5 separate regions of the Homo sapiens genome follow, and regions 1, 3, 4 and 5 are each reported to be linked to region 2. The links are microRNA targets in miRTarBase. Many come from high-throughput screens and were not tested one by one. Region 2 holds a microRNA gene; each other region holds the end of a gene's coding sequence.
The links. Region 2 holds the annotated microRNA hsa-miR-216b-3p (ACACACUUACCCGUAGAGAUUCUA, at 2,309-2,332, shown strand). A microRNA usually pairs through its seed, bases 2 to 8, with sites in the 3' UTR of a target mRNA and lowers its output. Matches are read on the target gene's strand: a 7mer-m8 pairs with bases 2 to 8, a 7mer-A1 pairs with bases 2 to 7 and ends in A, and an 8mer does both.

Region 1: miRTarBase lists ZDHHC7 as a target of hsa-miR-216b-3p. Seed matches in the 3' UTR shown: 7mer-m8 at 1,898-1,904, 7mer-A1 at 1,991-1,997 and 7mer-m8 at 2,068-2,074.
Region 3: the mRNA of SNX29 is a reported target of hsa-miR-216b-3p. Seed matches in the 3' UTR shown: 7mer-A1 at 4,601-4,607.
Region 4: miRTarBase lists EMC1 as a target of hsa-miR-216b-3p. The part of its 3' UTR that is shown has no 7-base or 8-base seed match.
Region 5: the mRNA of PLS1 is a reported target of hsa-miR-216b-3p. Seed matches in the 3' UTR shown: 7mer-A1 at 2,523-2,529.

The regions. Positions count from the first base shown.
Region 1 is chr16:84,973,620-84,976,619 of GRCh38, reverse strand. ZDHHC7 (zDHHC palmitoyltransferase 7) reads left to right here. Exons shown (of 8, transcript NM_017740.3): 8 at 101-2,445. The coding sequence ends at 277. Among named protein-coding and RNA genes, the nearest start is that of ZDHHC7, 36 kb to the left of the region's middle. RefSeq lists an enhancer at 1-289.
Region 2 is chr2:55,998,008-56,003,055 of GRCh38, reverse strand. MIR216B (microRNA 216b) reads left to right here and starts at 2,261; the gene lies at 2,261-2,342. All of the region lies in intron 2 of MIR217HG (MIR217 host gene), which reads left to right. All of the region lies in intron 3 of LOC105374690 (a long non-coding RNA gene), which reads right to left.
Region 3 is chr16:12,567,199-12,572,246 of GRCh38, forward strand. It overlaps SNX29 (sorting nexin 29), which reads left to right. Exons shown (of 21, transcript NM_032167.5): 21 at 1,308-5,048. The coding sequence ends at 1,431. It overlaps SNX29-AS3 (SNX29 antisense RNA 3), which reads right to left. Exons shown (of 4, transcript XR_007064988.1): 2 at 962-1,101. Among named protein-coding and RNA genes, the nearest start is that of SNX29-AS3, 41 kb to the right of the region's middle.
Region 4 is chr1:19,216,586-19,219,585 of GRCh38, reverse strand. EMC1 (ER membrane protein complex subunit 1) reads left to right here. Exons shown (of 23, transcript NM_015047.3): 22 at 1-17; 23 at 104-3,000. The coding sequence ends at 283. The region is part of intron 1 of EMC1-AS1 (EMC1 antisense RNA 1); the gene reads right to left. Among named protein-coding and RNA genes, the nearest start is that of EMC1-AS1, 7.7 kb to the right of the region's middle.
Region 5 is chr3:142,710,793-142,715,840 of GRCh38, reverse strand. PLS1 (plastin 1) reads right to left here. Exons shown (of 16, transcript NM_001145319.2): 15 at 4,216-4,340; 16 at 2,177-3,969. The coding sequence ends at 3,834. Among named protein-coding and RNA genes, the nearest start is that of TRPC1, 11 kb to the left of the region's middle.

The DNA of each region.
Region 1 (3,000 bases), not on the chromosome of region 2:
CGAGCCCACACTGTGCTTGAGCACGGTGTGATTCTGAGGCTTGGTGGGGTCTGCCGAGCTTCCTGGAGCCGCTGCCACTTGCTTTTCTTTCTGCTTCCAGGAGATCGAGCGATTGAAAAGTGAGAAGCCCACATGGGAGCGGAGGCTGCGATGGGAAGGGATGAAGTCCGTCTTTGGGGGGCCCCCCTCACTCCTCTGGATGAATCCCTTTGTGGGCTTCCGATTTAGGCGACTGCCCACGAGACCCAGAAAAGGTGGCCCGGAGTTCTCAGTGTGAGGCGTGGCTCATCAGACTGAAACTTGCTCACAGACTTCCAGTTATTTATTTGGGGTCTGAAGGATATCAACAGCTCATCTGTGACCAACAGGGCAACTGGAACCTACACAAACCAATTGCTTGCAGCAAGCAGAGTTTTATATATTTATAGTCACAGATGGCAGAGGAAGAGGCTCTCAGTCCCCACCTGTACAACAACGGAAAGGTGTGTGGCCACACGAAGAAGCCAAACGCCGTGGCCTCCTGCAGAGCTGGGGCTTCTGTGGAGAATACTTCGGGTTATTACATGGGTTATTCAAATCCTGGGTCCTGAGCTGCTGTTTCCAATCATGAAGAAAAACAGTGAATCCAGTGAACAGGGATTCTCCAAGCAGTCATTTCAGGGGGCTCCTGCTGACCCCGCCACTCAGCAGTGCACTCCCCGGATCACAGCAGGGCGTTTACATAGAAAGACGTTTTGGTCTCGATTAGCTCCGATGCTTTGCACTGAAGTTGCAAAAGATCTGTGCACTGAACAGTGAAGGTGGCTTCCGGCACACTCCCCGCTGCCCCGGAAGAGACATCCTTTGACCCTCTCAGCAAGTCTGTGTGTGTGCGTGTCTGTGCGTGTGCGCGCGTGTGTGCATGTGTGTCAAAATTGCCAGTGTTGTTTAGGCAATGTAACATTTACCGGCTGTGTACAGCAAACAAGCTATTTTTTAGAAACCGACGTTTCAGGGAAGAGGGGAGAGAGCCGCGGGGTCCTGCCCGTGGTTACTATGAATGTATTGCTGTTGGAGGACATCTCGATCCAAAGAACAGCCGTTCCTGTGCGGCCCTTCGTTGCCCTCCTGCTTTCATTTTTTAAAGAAATCTTGAGTGCTTGAGGGCCTTGGAACTGATTTTTTTTTTTTGTTCCAGCCAAATTAGCAGTGTATAAATGGCACCTAGGTAAGAGCAGAGCTGCGGCTCGGTGACTTGATACTTGGGGCAGCCCGATGCTGTGTGTGGGGCAGGGGAGGCATCCTTACTGGAGAGGCAGGGCCCAGCCATTGGGCACCTCTGGGAAGGGGAGGGGACCATGAGGCAGCCAGCCCCTGGCAGGGGCGACTGTGCCACCGCAGGCAGCGCTCCAGTCGGGAATGGCCAGGATGGCGCCCTCTTGTTGGAGTTTTTGGTTAGCTTTTACGTTTTCTTCTCCACCCACGGCACAGGTGATAAAATAGGATCCTTGGTGCGGAGCTTAAAATTATGCCAGAAAGCCAACAGCTCCCCTCGTGGGGCCTTGCCTTAAACTTGCCTGGTTTGTACATTTTTTGCCGGACGCATCAAGAAGCAATCTGTGACAAAGTCTGAGGGTCTTCCTTTATGCTTGCCCTCCACACTAAGAGAAGTTGGCGTCTCCCTCCTGGGAATTGTTTTGCCTTTCTGTTCATCTGTGAACTGTTTTTTGTTTTTAATTACTCTGTACCCCATCCGAATCAGGGCTTCTACCACTGCTGATGCAAAACCACAAAGGGACCTACCTGAGCCACCGTCCTAGCCAAGCGAGCAAACCTGCAGGGGGTTTGGAAGTGGACTTGGTCACCGCAGAAGCGTGTGCGCCGTTGGGGGAAGAGCTGCGTCACAGCCAGAGGGACAAAGTGTGGGTGATCCTGGAGACGCCAGTTTCCGAGATTGTTCTGCATATTCATTTGCACATTGTTGTCTGGGTTGGACATGCGTGTGGGCTTCAGTGTGAGGCTTTTAATATGTATATCCTGTTATCAATAAAACAATTATCCAAGTGGTTGAATCCTGTGAGACTTGGCAAGTGTGTGCAAATCAAGTATACTTGACTTTTCAACCTCTTCTTTCAATGTAACTTTTATATGAAATAAAGTAATCAATTAACAGTTCTCAAATGGCTTCCAAAGCGCCCGTTCTTCCTGGATGGTGGTGTTTTCAGGGGGTGCCTTTCCGTGCTTCGTGGGCCCAGCCCCAGGCTGTTAAGGTCACTCCCAAACAGTTTCCAGAAACTCTAAATGCTTTTGTGCCCATGACAAGTGACCTGGGCACTCAAGCGCGACTCACAAATGTTGCCCAGTGAGTACTGTTGCTTGTTGAATGTTTAATTCGACTCCCATCGTTTTACTTAGTCCTTTTTTTAGTGCACGTTGAAATAAAAACAATGTTTCAAAATCTCCACAGTTCAGAATCTCAAGTACCTACAATTTGATTTTAATTCATTCAACAAATTTGTCTAACATTTGCACTGAGGGAACCAAAATGCCCACTTACCTTCCAGAGGCCAGATGGTCAGTGTGTGCCGCAGCCCTGCCTCGCTTACCTTTCAGAGGCCAGATGGTCAGTGTGTGCCGCAGCCCTGCCTCGCACGTGCTGTGCCTTGGGGCTCCTGGTGGCATTCCAGACACGCGGAAATGAGAAGGAGACTCGAACACGGAGGCGCACACCTGAGCCGGGCGGCTGCATGGGCAGCAGCCCTCCAGCTTGTGTTTGTGGCTCTGCCGAATTTTGCTGCAATATTATTTGTATTCCTTATATTAGATTGTTATGTAGGCTCATTGTATAGAAGGATGACGCTTGCATTAAAACAAAACAAAAATATCCTCCAAATAGGAAGGTGGCTAAATCCTATCTTCTATTGTACATGAACTTGGCTTGGGTATGGAAGCAGGGGAAAATAGCTTGAAGGGTAGCCTGGGAGCCGCACACAAAAAGCAGGGTGCCCATAAAAAAAAGCA
Region 2 (5,048 bases):
CAATTTTGCGTGAATCTAAAACTGCCCTAAAAAATAAAGTTTACTAATTTTTTTCTTAAAAAAGAGACTTCTCCAGTCCACATCTTGTAAGTTCAGGTTCAGGAGGTAGGTCTTGGTTGGGGCTTGGAAATCTGTCTTCTCCATAAATCCAAAATGTTTCTGATATACAGCCAGCGTTGAGAATCACTGGGTAGATCTTGACCTCTGATCTTTTAAGATGTAACTGTACTGTTCAATTTTTTTTTCAGGTCTTTACTGTCTGCTAGAAATAATCTTATAAATTCATCTGTACTAATGTTGGTGGCAGATAATGCTTAGATATTAAAAATTTGCATTTATAGAAGGGTCTTTTTCTACCTAAGTACTTAAACTAACAAGAGCCCCATATTATAGGCTGGCAGCCTCTAAACAGCCTACTCATAGAGGCAACTAAAATGAGGATTCTGTCTCAAAGCTCTGTTCCATCCATGCCTTCCCATGGAGCAAAGGAACAAACAAGATATCAACAATTGGAGAAATGGCAACTATAATTCCATCATTCACAACTTCAGTTTTCCTTCAAGAGAACAAGTGACACTGTTAATCAGGCCCTGCAAGCACAAATAAACAAAAATAATAATTTGAGAAAAGAAAATGAATGATGGCCTAAGAAGTCTAGTGTTTCTTCCACAACCAAGGTATAGTAGTCTCATCCTTTGGAGCTTTAGATGAACAGACTGAGGATCATAGAGTTTCTAACACAGCCCCTTCTTTCTATGCAACCCAGAATGATGTAGTTCTCTATTTTTAAAAGCAGCAAAAAGGATGGAAGTGTTCTCCCTTGAAGCCCAGATGTTTTCTATCTTTCTAAGCTGCAATTATTTCAACACATTATTTTAGCTACACTTACATCAGATCAGAGCCACCTGTTATATCCTCTGCACACTTATGAGAGATTTACTGTTAAGTTTCTATTTATGGTTTATTTAGGAAAGTCAGAATGCAATTGAGAGGACGCTTTTAAAGTCATCTTGAGGTCCAAGGATGTGTGTATAGCAGATTAACAGATAATCAAGACACTGTGTTGTGTAGTGTAAACATAATCAACCCTAATTTTGTGATTCATTATTACATAAATTTGGACGTAACCCGGACTAAAAAACTCATCATCTGAAATTCAACTACATGCCTGAAAAACATAATATAACATTGTTATACTTTAAGGAAGTTATTAATCTACTCCTAAACCAAGTATTACAAAAAATTGTATTATAATGCATTTTATTGTAGGAGGATTCTTTATTACCAAGATTTACATATTTAAATATTCTCTCATTTTATCTTGTCTGAAATTAAATGTCACTGTAATATCAATAAAATATGTGAATATATATATATATATTTCCTTTCTAATGGTAAACAAGTATTTGCAAAAAACATCCTAAGTAATAGCCAATCATTAATAAATGTTTACTGAGCACCTCCTATAGGCCAGGAATTATTCCATGTGCTGGGATATAGAAGAGAACAAAATATATGAAGTCCCTGTTCTAGGAAAATGTTGGAATAAATTTATAGTTGACATTGACCCAAAACCCGACATTGTAGTGTTAATAATATCACAATATTCACAAGTTAGATTTTTGAGCTCTAAAGTAAATATTGCATATCATGCATTATTCCAGCACTTTAAAGATTAGCAGCAGGTGATGGTATTATCATAAGACCATTATTAGGCAGAAGAAAGATGGAGAGAATAAAAGTAAAAAGCACATCTCCTCATTCTACTCATCTAATCTTGTTATTACTTAGGCATAACTAAATTACAAAAGACTAAGAAACTCAACTGCAAAGTCTAACGTTAGATAAAATTGCTTGAAATGCAAGGATATTTACCTGGATTGACCATAAGGCTTTTGGTGTGACTAACACACTGGTAAAATAAGCACATATGAAACAAACAGCATAATTTGAGAAAAAAAAATGAATGATGGCATAAGAAGCCTCGTCTTTCTTCCATGACCAAGGTATACTAGTCTCATCCACTGGTTGTGGCTTGGGAAACTTCACTTTTCATCTTTTCCTTCATTCTCTATGGAGATGTGTGGCAAAATTAGAGAGTATCCATTCTCATTTATGCACCTATCTGAATCCCAGCTATAACTCCTACTTCCCATCAATTTTAATCTTGAATAAATATAGTTTTAAAATTTAGCAAGACCAGAAAGATCACTGTAGAATGACGACAACTTTTTTCTATCTTAAGTACAACTTCAAAGTGGCAGACTGGAAAATCTCTGCAGGCAAATGTGATGTCACTGAGGAAATCACACACTTACCCGTAGAGATTCTACAGTCTGACATCTTCAAGCATCGAACCATTTCATCAACTATGCTTTTGTTATAAGCAGTTCTTTGGCCTGGAATAAATCTAGCATGGCCAAAAAGCCAAGCTATAGCCCACTTACTGAACTTTAACTTCTTCTAAACCAAGGTGACTACATGCCTCGTGATGGTTGAATCCCACTAAATTAAATTTTAAAATAAGAAGGTTGTTTGTAACATGGCTTAAAGCAGTTGTTGTCAAAGTTTGATTCCCAGACTAGCATCAGCAGCGTCACCTAGGAACCTGTTAGAAATGCAAATTCTTGCACCCCACTAGAGGCCTCCTGAATCAGAAACTCAGAATGGGCCCTGCAATCTGTGTTTCAACAAGCTTTCCAGGTAATTCCGATTCATGCTCAAGTTTGAGAACCACTGGCTTAGAGAGAGCAAAAGATTATAACTGGAACACTAAAATAATCAGACAAAATAATATGTATTCATAAAAATATTGTCTAGAATACATTTCTAAAGTAGTGGTCTTAATAAGTATAAGCATTAATAATAATGGAAAGAAACATTTTCATTTAACTCTTACTTTGCCAATAGAATTGCTCAGATGTACTTATTTCCTTAGAAATAAGGAGTTAAGAAATCTTATTTAAGAGGAGAAAACGTTTTCATGTTTGGGAGGATTAAAAGGGTACTGACATCATTCAAGTCATGAGCCATAATTCTTATTAGATTTTATTGCTACATTCTTCGCACAGCTTTGGAAAGTTATTCCTAAGAGCACAAAATATGCACTTAGACTGCACACAGAGAAGGAAAATGCTCTCACAATGAAATTATTTTAGTCTGGCCCAGTAATATTTGAAAGACTCAAGATTTGTTCTCTCTGAAACATATCCTGTCAAAATAAGAGATGTTTGTTTAAATTTATAGTTTTCAACATCCTTTATAATTTTCCCTCCTAAGTTTAATTTGTCTGTAAGCAATCCAATTTCTATATACTAAAAAAATTATTTTCCCTTCTCCTCTAATATAATAAAAATGTCATGACTAAAAGGTAAAACAAAAAATAAAAAGTATTAAAAATTATTATTGAAATTGGTCTTCAATGACAATGAATAAAAGCCATAATTTGATTTTTATATATTTATAATAATGTTATGTATCTGTTAGTATCTGAAACATTGGTATGCCTGTTAATCAATAACTTCTGGTAGCATGTTAAAAATTCATCTTCAGTTTCATTCTTAGTGAATTCATTTGGATTATTTCTGGACCACACCAATTTCCCATGATGTGATGGAAAAAATTGTAACATTCAAAAATTGAATTAGATCACACACAAAATGTCAACTCACTCAGATTATAATAATAAGGTTTGGCTTGTTCATTGAAAAGTGGAGCCCAACTATGTCTAGAGTCTGTAAACTCAGTGCTGGAGATCAACAAGATGTTTTAGACACTTCACCACTTCAGGTGACCTGAAAGAAATACATTTCCTTAGATGAGGATAAGAAGGCTCTCCAAATATCAGGTTTCTTTGCTTTCATTGGATTTAATTCAACTCAATATTGATGCAATTGCTAATCAGAAGCTCCAACTAACAGTCTAAAATGCCTTTGATAGTAACAAAAGAAAAAAATTATTAACCATATATGCAATTTGTTACACAAAATATTTCAAAACATGAGGTTTCATTAAAGGAAACAATAAAAACATTGCTAGGAATTTAGCATCCTCCCAGGCAGTAGGAGTGTTTTAAGTATTTGATAACAACGACCAATAGTCACTATTGCATGAAGCACTCTACACATATTATTTAACTTAGTTTTCTCACAAACCCAGTGAAGAAGGTATTATTGGCACTCCTATTTTATAGTCCTTTTTTTCTCCTAACAAAGAAATTGAAGTTCAAAAAGACATAAATTGGAAGGAAATAAATTACCTAAATGTGCATAATTCTACATCTCAGACAAAATAGCACAGAGGAACAAGCATGGAACTACAAGTCAGGAAACTTAGGTTTTATGTTGTTTGTTTTTGTTTTTTCAAATTTTTATTTTGAAAAATGTATAGACTTACAAGCAGTTAAAAAATAATAATACAGGGGTTCTATGTACCTTCACTCAATTTCCCCCAACGGAACATCTTACATAACTATAGTAAAATATCTAAACCAGGAAATTGACATTTATACAACCCATAGATCTTATTCAGATTTCACCAGTGTACAAGCACTCATGTGTGTACATGTGTATAGTTCTGTGCAACTTGCCACATGTAGATTTGTGTAACAACTGCCATAGTCAAGATACACAATTATTTCATCACCACAAATATCCCGGTGTTACCCCTCTCTAGTTACACCTATCTCTTTACCCTCTTGATGCCCCATCCCTAACTCCTGGCAACCACTAATCTGTTTACTATCTCTATAATTTTGTCATTTTTAGAATGTTTATAAATTTAATCATATAGTAGGTAACCTTTTGAGATTGAATTTTTTTACTCAGCTTAATTCTTTTGACATCCATCCAAGCTGTTGCATGTATCAATAGTTTGTTCCTTTTTACTGTTGAGTAGTATTTCATGATATGGATGCAGCATAGTTTGTTTAATGATTCACCCATTGAAGGACACTTAGTTTGTGTCTGTGTCTTGGTATTACAAACAAAACTACTACAAACAATATAGTCTAAGATTATTGTGTGAGCATAAATTTTCATTTTTCTGGG
Region 3 (5,048 bases), not on the chromosome of region 2:
TTGGTCCTTTCTAAACCACAGATAAGGCAGAGCTAGCTGTGGACACAGTCCTGTCTTCCCTTGTAGGGTCCAGTGGATCCAGGACTTACATCCAGCAAGCCACAGCAGCACAGAGGTGCTGCGGACGCAGGAGTGGACATGGATCCTGTTAGGTTTTTGCCTTGTTTTAAAACATTTTATCCCAGTGAGGTATTTACTTCCTATTCAAATAGCGTATAGTAGGCAGAGTAAGAACATTCCTAGCCCCAGAATTTATGTGTCCCCTTATCTAGCAAAAGGGACTTTACAGATGTGATTAAGGATTGGCCAGGCACAGTGGCTCACACCTGTAATCCCAGCACTTTAGGAGGCTGAGCAAGAGGATCACTTGAGACCAGCCTGGACAAGAGCAAGACCCCATCTCTACAAAAAATTACACTCAGGTATGGTGGCTAGTACCTATAGTCCCAGCTGCTCAGGAGGCTGAGGTGAGAGGATCACTTGAGCCCAGGAGATCGAGGCTGCAGCAAGTTATCATTACACGATTGCACTGTAAAACCTGGGCAAGAGTCGAGACTGTCTCCAGAAAATACAATTTTGAAAAAATGCAACCACATCACAGGACTTCCTGCTGAGCACCCTCTGCTCTCACGGTGAAGCCTCCCAGCCTCTACCCTATCCCCTAAAAAATGTGCCGAGGGCCTCCCACACAACCCAGACCCATGCCCTGGGACCCACACACGCTGTGTGTTCGCGTTGCTTCAGAACCAGGATCAGTGTCCCCCTCTTGGTGTTATCTTCCACTGTTCCTGGCTCTTAAACACAATACCATGCCAAACAACCTTTTAACTAGCCCCTAGCCTAGGGCCTGATTATTTTCTTAGGATTAATTCCACAGGAAGTCCGTCTCCTGTGTTTTGCTACGCATCTTGTGTGGCTTTATGTAGTGTTCTCCAAAGTTGCCTTGGACTTAGAAGCGTACCTTTGCTGGAAAATCAAGGAAAATGTGGGGAAGAAAGCTGTGCCTAGAACATTCTTTCATAGCCTTAAAATGTAGACCGGAACGGTGGTACCATGAGCTAGCTCAGACTCACAGCCAAGCTTGGTTGGAGCCTCGGAGTGCTGTTAAAAAAAAAAAAATGGAAAGGTTTACGTGACAATAGGGGTTTCTCATTTCTTCAGGTGGCACCAGTTAGAGGCAGATCCAATGAGCCAGTCACAGTTGCCAATCAGATCCCTCCTGCCCTCACACCTGGCTCCCCTTCCTGGCCTGTGGTCATTTGCTTTTCATCCCCAGACTTAACCCGATTCTCTCCCTGCTCTTTCAGCGACATCACCCCGCCCGGAGAGCCTGTGAACAGCCGGCCCAAAGCAGCTTCCCGCTTCCCCAAACTGTCCCGGGGTCAGCCCCGGGAGACCCGCAACGTGGAGCCCCAGAGCGGTGACCTCTGACCTCGACAAAACCGCAGCCACGGGCCCTGTGCGTGGCACCAGCTGCGTCCACCCCAGCCACTGCCGCTGGCCCCTCACCTCAGCGTGACAACCACGTCCACCTGGTGATCCTGAGAGCACACGATTCCCAACAGTTACACAACACCCCGATTAAACTAATCAGTCTTCGAGCCGCATGATACCGTGACCCGAGAGACCAAGGCAGCACCTCGCTGGAGAGACTGGGACACACAGTCCTTCTGCTTCTGGGGTCTACCCTGGGCTGCAAGGGCTGTTCCTCCACCTTTCTGTAGTTCAGGGCTGGCAGGAGGGTGGGCACCAGGTCAGGCTGGGTGCGCCATGGTTGAGAGGCAAAGGTGATCCCCTATATAGGAAGGTTCATGCAGAGCCAGCCTCTCCACTCTTTCCCACGTGGGGACTAGAATGACTATTAGCCTCTCCTTTTGCTTTTTAAGGTTATTACCTGGCCTAACCTAGGGATGGCTGGCTTTGCGGGGGGGGGGGGGGGGGGGGGCATGGTTCCTTTCACTGCATTTTCCACCAACAGTCATTAGACACCTGGCACTGTCACAGCTCACTTTTCCAGAGGGATATTCCTGTGGCTTTGGCAAGGAGCCATTAGTGATGTGCAACTTGAGTTCAGAGAACTTCCCCTACCTCCCCCATGGCTGGCTTCAGGAAGGACCAGTGCCCTCCATAGCCTGAGGCCACCTAGGCCCTCGCCAGGCTTGGAGTGGGGGGACTCAGACATCTGGCCCAGCCATCAGCAGCAACCTAGTAACCCGGCGTCATCCAGCGTGTCCAAAGTAGCATTGGCCCTACAGTCATGAGAGACTTGGGTCAGGGAACCACTGCAGAAGGTTCCAGGGTTTTCAAACCAGGCTCCATGACTATGAAGTTGGACCCAGTGTGGACACTTAACAGATCATGTGTCTCTCCACTAAAAACATTTTCCATCCCGTCTGCCCCCGACATTGTCCTTGATAACAGAACTCTGCATCCCCTAAGACAGAGTCCTCTGTTCCTCCCATGTCAGGTGGCTCTCAGAGTACAGGGACCTTGGCAGGTGGAGAGGAGGATGGGGACCAGCAGCTGGGCAGCCCCCAGGGCTCCTCCTCCAGTGAGCTCACATCAGAGCACCTCACAGAGCAATAGCCGTCCTCAGATGCTCAGCAAAGTTGTGGCAGTTTGCATTTCTAGGGTAAACTAACTAGGAAGGATGTCGTGAAATGGACTATGCAAGAGTAAGTTTGTGTGTTTCGCCTTAATCTGAGGCAGAGACACAGCAGAACCTGAGGAGAAAAGCAGGTGGAAGGTGACGGTTAGATGGTAAGCCATGGGCTTGTCCTGGAACTGCTTCAACTCAGTGGCTTAAAATGAGAACTGCCCAGGTGAGCATGGAGCATCTCCTAGGCTCGAGGACATCTCTGGAGAATCATCTGGAAGGTTTATACTGTGCCTTCCCCTCGTAGCAAAAAGGAAGATTGTTCATGGCCTTTAAGGAAGGCTGAGATCACTCACACACAGCGCCCCCCCACCCCAGAGAAACCGAGTCAGCCTACATGACTTCCAAGGGGACCTGGGGCCAGATAAGCCCTGCCCCGGTGAGACCAAATGAGCTGGAGCATGTATGGAGGTGCGGACCCTGCAGTCAGTTTGCGAGTGTGGAGGACCCGAGACATCCTGTAAAGGCAACTTGGTCTCCCTCCCACTCACCTGCCAACATTGCTGCAATACACATGGTTTATCTGAAATTCCAAGGCCAGAGTGCACATCAGCTCACATGACTGGCAACTCTAAATAGAGAGCCCTAATGGACTGAGGCAGGAAACGTCTAAAAGCTCAATCTGCTGTATGTCATGACCCCTTAGGTTGGGTTTATGCCACATCGGTCATTTTGAAGTAGGTGTTTGATGCCAGCTCAGAGACTGTCTCAGGAGTGCCTCCCTGGCCTGGGTAGCTACCCTGGAGGTCATCTCCCTGTTCTCTGTTGGATAAAGGAACCTCCCCCATCTGTGACATTCCCTTGGGCCCAGGCTTATGACCTGCACCTTTTCTGACACCTGCCCCCAAAGCACAGGATGTGAATTGGTCTCTCTCCAGATACCCCACGAGGAAGCACCTTGGACATTCTGCACATGATAATAATGCAACAGTCCCCCATTGCTGAGAGATACTAACCCGTGAGAAACAAGTATGCTCTCAGCTGGTATTGAACTGGTGGGAGAAACTGCCTCCTACTTTTATAATACTGAATTATTCACAAAAAACCTGGTCTGCTCTCCAAAATGAGAGCATGTTCCTGGGAGCCACATGGGGACCATCCCCAGCTGCCTGCTCCTGGTACCTCCCCCATGATCATGCACAGACCGTAGAGTCGAGTCATCTCGCAGATCCAGACCATCTCCTCTCATTCTCACTCTAAAAATGCTGGTGGCCCGCACATGACAGCAACTCCCCGAAGCCTTCCCTTTGGAATCCCATAGAATGTTCTGCAATGATTGGGTCCATCTTGCTGCTCAGAAGAATCCCGTCCTGCTCTCTAGTGTGGTGGGATGAACTTCAGGCAACAAACAACTGGCAGGGTTCCCAGTTCCTGGAGTTATGGAGCAGAAACACCCAGGCCTAGCAGAATTGTGGCTGAAACCTGGTGCCCAAATTCCACACCCTGGAAATGTGTCAACTGCCTGTCAGCCTGGATTCAATTCTGAGGGCTAAGCCACGACCTTATCCATGAGTGGCGAAGACACCCCTGAGGAAAGGATTGCTTGCACCTCACATCTGTCTTCTTCTAAGATTACTCGGAGATTTTCAAACAACATCTGAGAACAGAAGCCCCCTCCCCTACTCAGAGAGGAACGAGGGTGGCCCACCTCTCAAGGGCCTTGGATTCCTGGGACCACCCTTTGCTGGGAGGAAGAATCCACACCGAATCCTTCTGTCTTCATGGCCTGCTGTGCTGAAACAGAACAGCAGGTTCCATCTTTCACATCTTTTTTTCTCCCCCAGATGAAAGACGACTCAGGAACGGTAGGGCTGGGCAGAGGTGTCTCTCCTTGAGAGACAACAAAAGCTTCTAAGGGAGGGAGCTTAAAGGCTGCTAGAAACCTAGCCCAACCATCCACTCCTGATCTGAGACAGAACCTTCTCCGCCACTCTTCCTGCAATCAGTGTGAAATTCCAGCTTCTTTGATTCCCACTTAGCAGTATGCTCCAATCACGTTGCTGGCAAGGCATTTTAGAGTTTGGAGCTGAGGTTCAAAGCCCCCTGCATTTCTCTACTGGCAGGCCCTGGTGAAGGAAGACACTTTCAGGGAAGAGGCTCTTACAGTCTATGGTGGTAGCCATCTTCACATCCAGTCACCAGTTGCATCTAGGGAGCTGCTGGCTATAAAAGGGATCATCCAGTGGAGTTGTAAACAAGGGAACCATCTTGCAAGATCTAGGAAGAGGAAGGGGAGGGATGTGGACTGGGTCTGATCACAGCCCTTGGCCCTGCTTCATACTTTGGAGCTTATTAAGATCAATTTTGATAACCATGTAATTTCTTAGAACCATGGCAGGTAGTATTGTGCTTTAAAAACCAGAGGCTCCTGAAAGTCGTTTACACCAGGTGG
Region 4 (3,000 bases), not on the chromosome of region 2:
TGGAGTCCACTTGTTTGGTGAGTAGAGCCCACAGCTGCCCTATTTCACCCTTGGTGGATCATTGGTTGTTTCTTTCCTAATTCTTATTCCATCTGCCTTCCAGGTTGTGGCCTATGGTTTGGACATTTACCAAACTCGAGTCTACCCATCCAAGCAGTTTGACGTTCTGAAGGATGACTATGACTACGTGTTAATCAGCAGCGTCCTCTTTGGCCTGGTTTTTGCCACCATGATCACTAAGAGACTGGCACAGGTGAAGCTCCTGAATCGGGCCTGGCGATAAAGAACAAAGACTGTGCCTAAAAGTGGAGAGCCAGGGGAGTGTGGGTCAGATAAGCAGCTACAGCTGCAGTTTGGTGGATTGGTGGAGTATGTGTGTGTGTCAGTGCTCAGCTAAGAACTGTAGGGAAGATGGATGACCTTCACGCAGAACTCCTTTTGGGATATACATGATGCAGAAAGGATCCTACATGGAGAGAGACAGAACTCTCTCAGCTGACACTCTCAGAGATTCCTGATGGGCTTTCTCTTGAAGTCCAAAGGCGTCTGCATTGTTTCCTTTCTTTGCCCATCCATGAATGTTCTGTTTTGTTTTTTTTAATAAGAATTCCGGCTGATTTTTGTGAGGCCTGTTTAAATTGACTTTACTTTGCCTTTTGTGTTTCTCAATTTTATCTAGAAATCTTTCTGACTTTTTCCATCTCTTGCTTCAAAGTAAGAGGGGAACTCTCCTTGCCGACTCCACCTTATAGGTACATTTGGTGTTTTGCACTGGGAAGAAATAGGATCCATCCTTAGCTGAGGCTTGAGGACTGATCCAGCCTCTCATGGCTTCCCTCCAAAGTAACTTAGGGTTGAGGGATCTATATGTGATGTCAAAACTTACTTTAAACCTCTAGTTTCGTGCTGTCATTTATTAGGCTGGGCCACCAAATCTTTGTTTCAATTTATCAGAAGCCAAGTGCATACTAGCGTCTTGTTTGTTGCCCATTGCCTATACTTTTCACCTGAGATGTGTGAGTTGGGGCCTTTTAAAAACTACTGAATTGTCTGAGCCTTGAAGACATTTCCAGGGAGAAGAGATAATCTCTCATTTCACCCACAGGCTGGTCTAATCATAACCTAGTTAAAGATGTCCTTGTTTAAGAACCCCATTATTTATTTTTAGTTTTTAATATAAATTAACATGTGGGTCATTATATTTCTCCTTAAATGAGGAAATTTTAAATTTTATTGATCTAACCTTTGAAGCTTTAAAAAAGGAGAAAGAGGGTAGGGGTGGGAAACTGGCATACTGTGTGTATAGCACTGCCGATTGGCTAGGCCACTGTGTCTCTGCTACAAATTAAAGAAATCCTAAAAGTTTTCCTTGGTCATAGAGTTGGGGAATGACAGAATTTTTCTTTGTTGTGAAATGTATGTACAGAGTAGACCATCTCTAGCCCTGTGGTGAAAGAGGTACACTCGAATGTTTGCATAAAGCAAGTGACAAATGACACTGTTTAAGTCCTCTTTTGTGTCTTAGAAGATCATTTTGAGGCTATTTTCACATTAGAGGGGATAAAAGCAGTGAAGACATGGAGTAAGTGTATTTTATTTTAGTAAGGAAAGGTCAGTTTAATCATATATGGGTTGGTTAGGTTATCTAAAAATTTGTCATCTTTCTATGGTCATATGCTGATGGTAGATTATGGCAGAGAAGGAAGAGGAAATGACAACCATTTTATTAATTGTCAGTTTGATATTGAGTGACTGAATGTCTAAGAATCTCCAGAAAAAAACAGGCATCTATCATCCTGACCCAAGGCATATTTTAACATAACCTGGGAGAAGAGAGTTAAGTACAAGTTAAAAAAAATTCTGCCCTAGTTTTGAGAAAGCCTGGCTGGAATTCTGACTGTCTTACATACATATGTGCAAGGTTAGCCTGCAAGATTCTAGTTTTTATTTACCAGTGTGCCAGAATCTGAAACAAGCTACTGGGAGGGAAGGTATTTGTCCTTTAGTAAAATTCCCTGTATTTCAGCTGTAATCAAAGTTACCTCAAAGCAGGTGCTTTTTTTTTTTTTGAGACAGAATCTCACTCTGTTGCCCAGGCTGGAGTGCAGTGGCACGATCTTGGCTCACGGCAACCTCCACCTCACAAGCAGCTGGGACTATAGGCATGTGCCACCACGCTCAGCTAATTTTTTGTATTTTTAGTAGAGACGGGGTTTCATTGTGTTGGCCAGGCTGGTCTCGAACTCCTGGCCTCAAGTGATCTGCTGGCCTTGGCCTCCCAAAGTGCTGGGATTACAGGTGTGAGCCACCGAGCTTGGCCAAGTGCTTAAAATAGTTAATGCTAATGCCACAGTCCAATTTAAATCTTTTCTTAGTTCTCAACTTTCCTTAATCTTAAAGCAGCATTCGGTTCTGAGCAGCTACACTCAGTCTCCACTAATGGCTGCTGAGACTATGTTTCCTCTCTCAATTCTCTGATCTATTTGCTTTCTTGTCATTCCTTGTTTTTTGTGTGTATTCCTTGACTTACCTCTTCTCCTGTCTTCATTAATTAGGTTAATTTTGGGGCCCCATGGTGTTTCACGTAAAAAGATTTGGCTGGGCGTGATGGCTCATGCCTATAATCCCAGCACTTTGGGAGGCCATAGTGGAGGATCTCTTGAGCCCAGGAGTTCCAGACCAGCCTGGGCAACATAGCAAGACTCTATCTACAAAAAATAAAAAAAAATTAGCCGGGCCTGGTGGCATGTGCCTGTGGTCCTAGCTACTCAGGAGGCTGAGGTAGGAGGATCACTTGAGCCTGGGAGGTCGAGGCTGCAGTGAGCCATGAACATGCTACTGCATTCCAGCCTGGGCAACAGAGTGAGACCCTGGCTCAAAAACAAAAACAAAAACTAGTTTGTTTTAGTATTCATTAATTACGTATATGAGCACTGGTAGTCTAGTGTTTGTTCTTGTATACAGTGTTTTCTTAAATGAGATGATGCTATTTAATTCTGT
Region 5 (5,048 bases), not on the chromosome of region 2:
GTCTTTGTTAGGTCTTTTCTAAGAGGCCTTAGCAGACCGTCTTTCCAAACATTTTCATGTATTTACTTCAAAACAGTTGATAATCTATTGAGTTTGTTTTCTGTCTTATCCCTAGTAGATGGTAAATCTTCCTCATTTTGTAATGTTTAATACAGTTCCAAGTTTATTTGGTGGAATGTCAAGATTGTTCCTGTAAATTTGTGGCCAGTGAACAGTGGCACATATTTGTATTTATGCGTGTGTGCTTACACTCTCTGTAGTGCAGCACAATTTTTAGTTAGTAGCAGAAAAACACTAACCCTGATGTACCCAAAACTTCGTGTTTGAGGGAAAAAATTTAGATGGCTCAGAACTATGTCGCACATGTGATATAGCAGGAGAGCAAGCGAGATAGAGCGCGATGTAGATATAGCTTCACTTTAATCCGAGGCATTTGCAAGTTGCTGGACCTAGATGATTCTTTATCCAGAGGACTCCCATAGGGGCTGGATTAATTTCTAAGACTGGGGAATCCCAACTTACTTTGGTAGATAATTCTAGGAGGCCTTTCAAAGTGCTGGGGGTGGGGGTGCTGTTCCTACTTCAAACTAAGCCAGTGTTGCAACTGCACCCTGTTCTTCACAAGTCTTTTTGGATCATCTCAGCTGCAGAAATCCTCTCTTACCTCTCTGATACACTTTTTGTTGTTTTTAAGAGACAGCATCTTGCTGTGTCACCCAGGCTGGAGTGCAATGGTGCAATCATAGCTCATCATAGTGTCGAAATCCCAGGCTCAAACAATCCTCCCACCTCAGCCTCCTGAGTAGCTAGGACTACAGGTGCACACCACCACACCCATCTAATTAAAAAAAAAAATTGAGGACTGGGCCCAGTGGCTCATGCCTGTAATCCTAGCACCTTGGGAGGCCGAGGCGGGCAGACCACTTGAGGTCAGGAGTTCAAGACCAGCCTGGCCAACATGGTGAAACCCTGTCTCTACTAAAAACACAAAAAAAAATTAGCCAGGCATGGTGACACACATCTGTAATCCCAGCTACTCAGGAGGATGAGGCACAAGAATCACTTGAACCCAGGAGGCAGAGGTTGCAGTGAGCCGAGATTGTGCCACTGCACTCCAGCCTGGACAAGAGAGAGAGACTCCGTCTCAATAAATAAATAAAATTTTGTAGCAAGAGTCTATGTTGCCCAGGTTGGTCTCAAACTCCTGGCCTCAAGCAGTCCTCCCACCTTGGCCTCCCGAAGTGCTGAGATTATAGGCATGAGCTACTGTGCCTGGCCTGGTACACTATTTATCCAGCATAAATTGGGGTATTTTAACATAATCTATGCAGCCTATCATCAGTTTTTTCTACACAGGTGATACAGAGACCAGTGGCAGAGTTATGATGAACAGTAGCATCCAAGATTCAGAAGCAGCATATTACTTCAAGCAGCTTACCCAAACCACATATACAAAAGAGCAGTCATGACTCCAGTCAGAGAAGAAAAAAAAAAATCCAGATTTAGATCTAGTCCTACAATACCCTAGACTCCATCTCCATCTCCAGACTCTGCCTCTCCCTCAGTACTCTCAGGTCATGTTCACCTGTTTGTCTTCTAGGATGCCTACAGGACTGCCTGCTTCAGGTTCTTTACATTTGTTCTCTCTGCTGAACACTTATAGCACAAATATCCTTAGAGAGACCTTCCCTGACCACCCAAATACAAATAATCTCCACTCCATTTCCCAAGTCAGTCTCTATCACATTACCTTATGTTATTTCTTCTACTGCATTATCACTGTCTAAAATTCCTATTTACGAATTGTCTCTCTACTAGGATATCATACATGGATGTGATACATGAGGTCAGGAGACTTCATCTGTATTTTTTTCAGATGAATCCCCAGTGTCTAGCATAGTATCTGGATCATAATAAATGATAAATTTGTGAATGGATTGATTCACCTGAATTATTTCAGCACAAACTAAATTGTAGTAATCACACAGTTGGTTTTTAATAATTCTTCATATTTAAGAACAAAAGAACTACCCTCATCTTCAAAGAAATCAGACACAATTTTTTTTTTGTTTTACTAACTCATTTAGGAATTCTTTTCTTTTCTGGAAAATAAGCTTATGCTAGACTAATTTTCAAGGCTGAATATTTTTCTTCAAATGAAATAAATATAAACACATTTCTATATACACAGCATTTTTATTAAATATACTCTGTGAGAAAAAGAACACCCTAAAGTGCCAGATTTCATGTAAATCCAATAACTTAGTAAATACAATGGTGAAAAAAAATCAGAGGGAAACATAATTTAAATAATCTTATAAAAGAGCAAGAACATATCTTAATCTTAAGAAAACAATCATCAAAATATAAAAGGGAAAGAAATCTCTTTTGTAGAAGAATATATTTCAAATTCCACCTGTTGATCATTTCATTTAAAAAATTCTATTCTAAACACATGGGCAGTCTCTCTTACCAATATATATATTTAAATCAATGGTAGAAAGGGAATTTAGACTACTCATTCACACTGAGATAAAGTGACATTTTTGTTGCACAACAGTATTGCTCACTGGCACTAACAGTGGAAGATGGAGAAAGTAGATTTCTGGATTCAATTGTTAGCAGCAGAAATGGACTAATGCTAAAAATTTAGAAAAAAATAGTCCAAGCTGTAGCGATTTCCAAGTAATACAAACATTAACCAAACATTGCCAATTTGTAACGGGCTGTGAAAAACATATGAAAATACTCTACATTGAATACTAGCTTTATGTTACTTTCTATTAAAGATATTCAGTGGGCATATTCTAAATTATATAGGGCTTCTATAGAGACCTAAACTAGCAAGTATAATATGAAGCTAACAGGACAGTGTCAGCATATCTTGGGATGTTCTAGCCAATGTTTGGCTACAAGTATTTGGAAGGGGTCAAATAACTATATGCACATTCAAAATGAATACTTATAAAAAGAAATCTTAATGTATCAGATATCCACAGACTGAAAAGTGTTACACATGTTGTGGGGGGAAAATACTGATGGTTGGCTGAATGACCAATTAAACATACCACTTATGAAAAGCTGGGTGATTCAGGTGCAAAAAAATATATATGCACACATATCTCTCTAATAACATCCTACCAACATATATATGTTGCATGACATAGTTAAAGCTGTGTTACCAAACTAGGATGTGTAAAGTATCAATGTAGTTAAAATTAAATTTTAAGTAAAAAGCTGCTGCTACTTAAACAAGAGAGTGAACTTTGGGGTTTATTCAAGAATTAGTTCTCATATATAAAAAAGTTTGATATTAATAAACAATTCTGGTCACCATAAGGTTTTAGACAGTATAGAAACTTACAGAAAAGTGTTTTTGGACCACTTTAAATAGTTGGAGGAAGCAAATAAAAGGATTAAACTGGATTATGAGTATGAATGCATTTATGATCAAAATTAACACACCAAAAAAATCAAACCACATTTCACAGCAGAACCTGCAAAAACGTTTGTATTCATCTTTTTTGAACCATAAAAAAGAATGATTTAGTCTTGTCTAATACGACTTTTAAGCAACAAAAATAATTTAATCATGAAGTATCAGCTTGATTATGAATATATTCTATTATCTGTATCAGTTGGTAAATTAACTGTGTTACCCAAAAAGGCTGACCAGCTCTAACTAGTATGAACAGGATATTGAATTCATTAATGAATATATAACTATTTTGAGCATACAAATAATCTCTGGTTTTACACCCACTACATTTCAGAATCCTGTAAACTGTGAGGCATACAATATGTTTAATGTGGCAGAAAATCATATGAAATGATTATTTTATTCTGTTCAGTCCTTTTCCCATTAAGCATGCAAACACCGTCATAACCATCTTTGGTTTCACTTCTACGAGGTCATCAGGTAATGCATATATCCGGGCACCGATCTTTCGAGCAACTGAAATGGCGTATCTTGAAGAGACAAGAAAAATATCTTGGTGTTATCCACTGTGTTTTCACTTAACATATTTTAACAAAAGAGTGAAATATTTTGACAAGATTAGTTTTACGAAAAGGTTAAGTTTGTGAGTCTTAAATCTAAGACTCACATATAAGTTATATTTAAAAATATGAATTTTAAGGGCATAGTAACTTTTCCTATAAGGATTTTAGAGAATTAAAGGGCCATGTATTGTAATATAAACCATAAAGGCTTACTTAGCATTGTTCAGCTTGTCCTCATCAGATAAGTTTTCTCTCCTGATCATTTCTTGACGAACTGCATTTGGTGCAATGGCATCTATTAAATCTAGGACAGGTAAACTTGTGCTTATAGATTTATCCTAGAAAATAAAGCATAGATGAACATTCATAAACATCTGACCTTTAATTTTCATTATTTTCAGACTCTTCTGATCATATAACTGAAGGCAATCTACAAATTCTTTGTACTTAACCTAACGTTCAGCTTTTCTGCAACCAGCACACATAAATAAACCCTTTAAAATATACTTTTCCTTGAATCTTTATATATAATATAGAGTTGTCACCATATCTGAATAAGGTTTGTGGACATGATAGCTCCTAAGTATGCTAACTATAGTGTCCATTCTGTAAAAAATACAAAACTTTTGAAAGGGAATAGATGAATTTTTAATTAACAATTTTATAAATTCTACTCACATATTTCTTAGACCATGAATCCAAAAGCCTTCCCTTAATATTTTTCAGAAAGAAAAATGAAATAGTGAAAGGGAACTAACACTTACAAAGACATTGTCTTGTTGTTTTACATGTTTTAGTTTATTTAATCCACCTTTTAAACCCTAGCATCTTGATAGTAAAGGAATTCTTTTTTAAAAAAAGATGAAGAATATAAAGTTAAGATAGCTCAAATGACTTGTTTACACAACCAGTAAATACAGAACCCATGACAGTCTGACTCTAAAATGCCCAAGAGTCTCTCCATTTTTAAGTTACCACCAAGGCAAGCTAAAAATGGACAACTAAATTATAGTGAATAGCGCACTGCAGATGAAATCAGACATCCT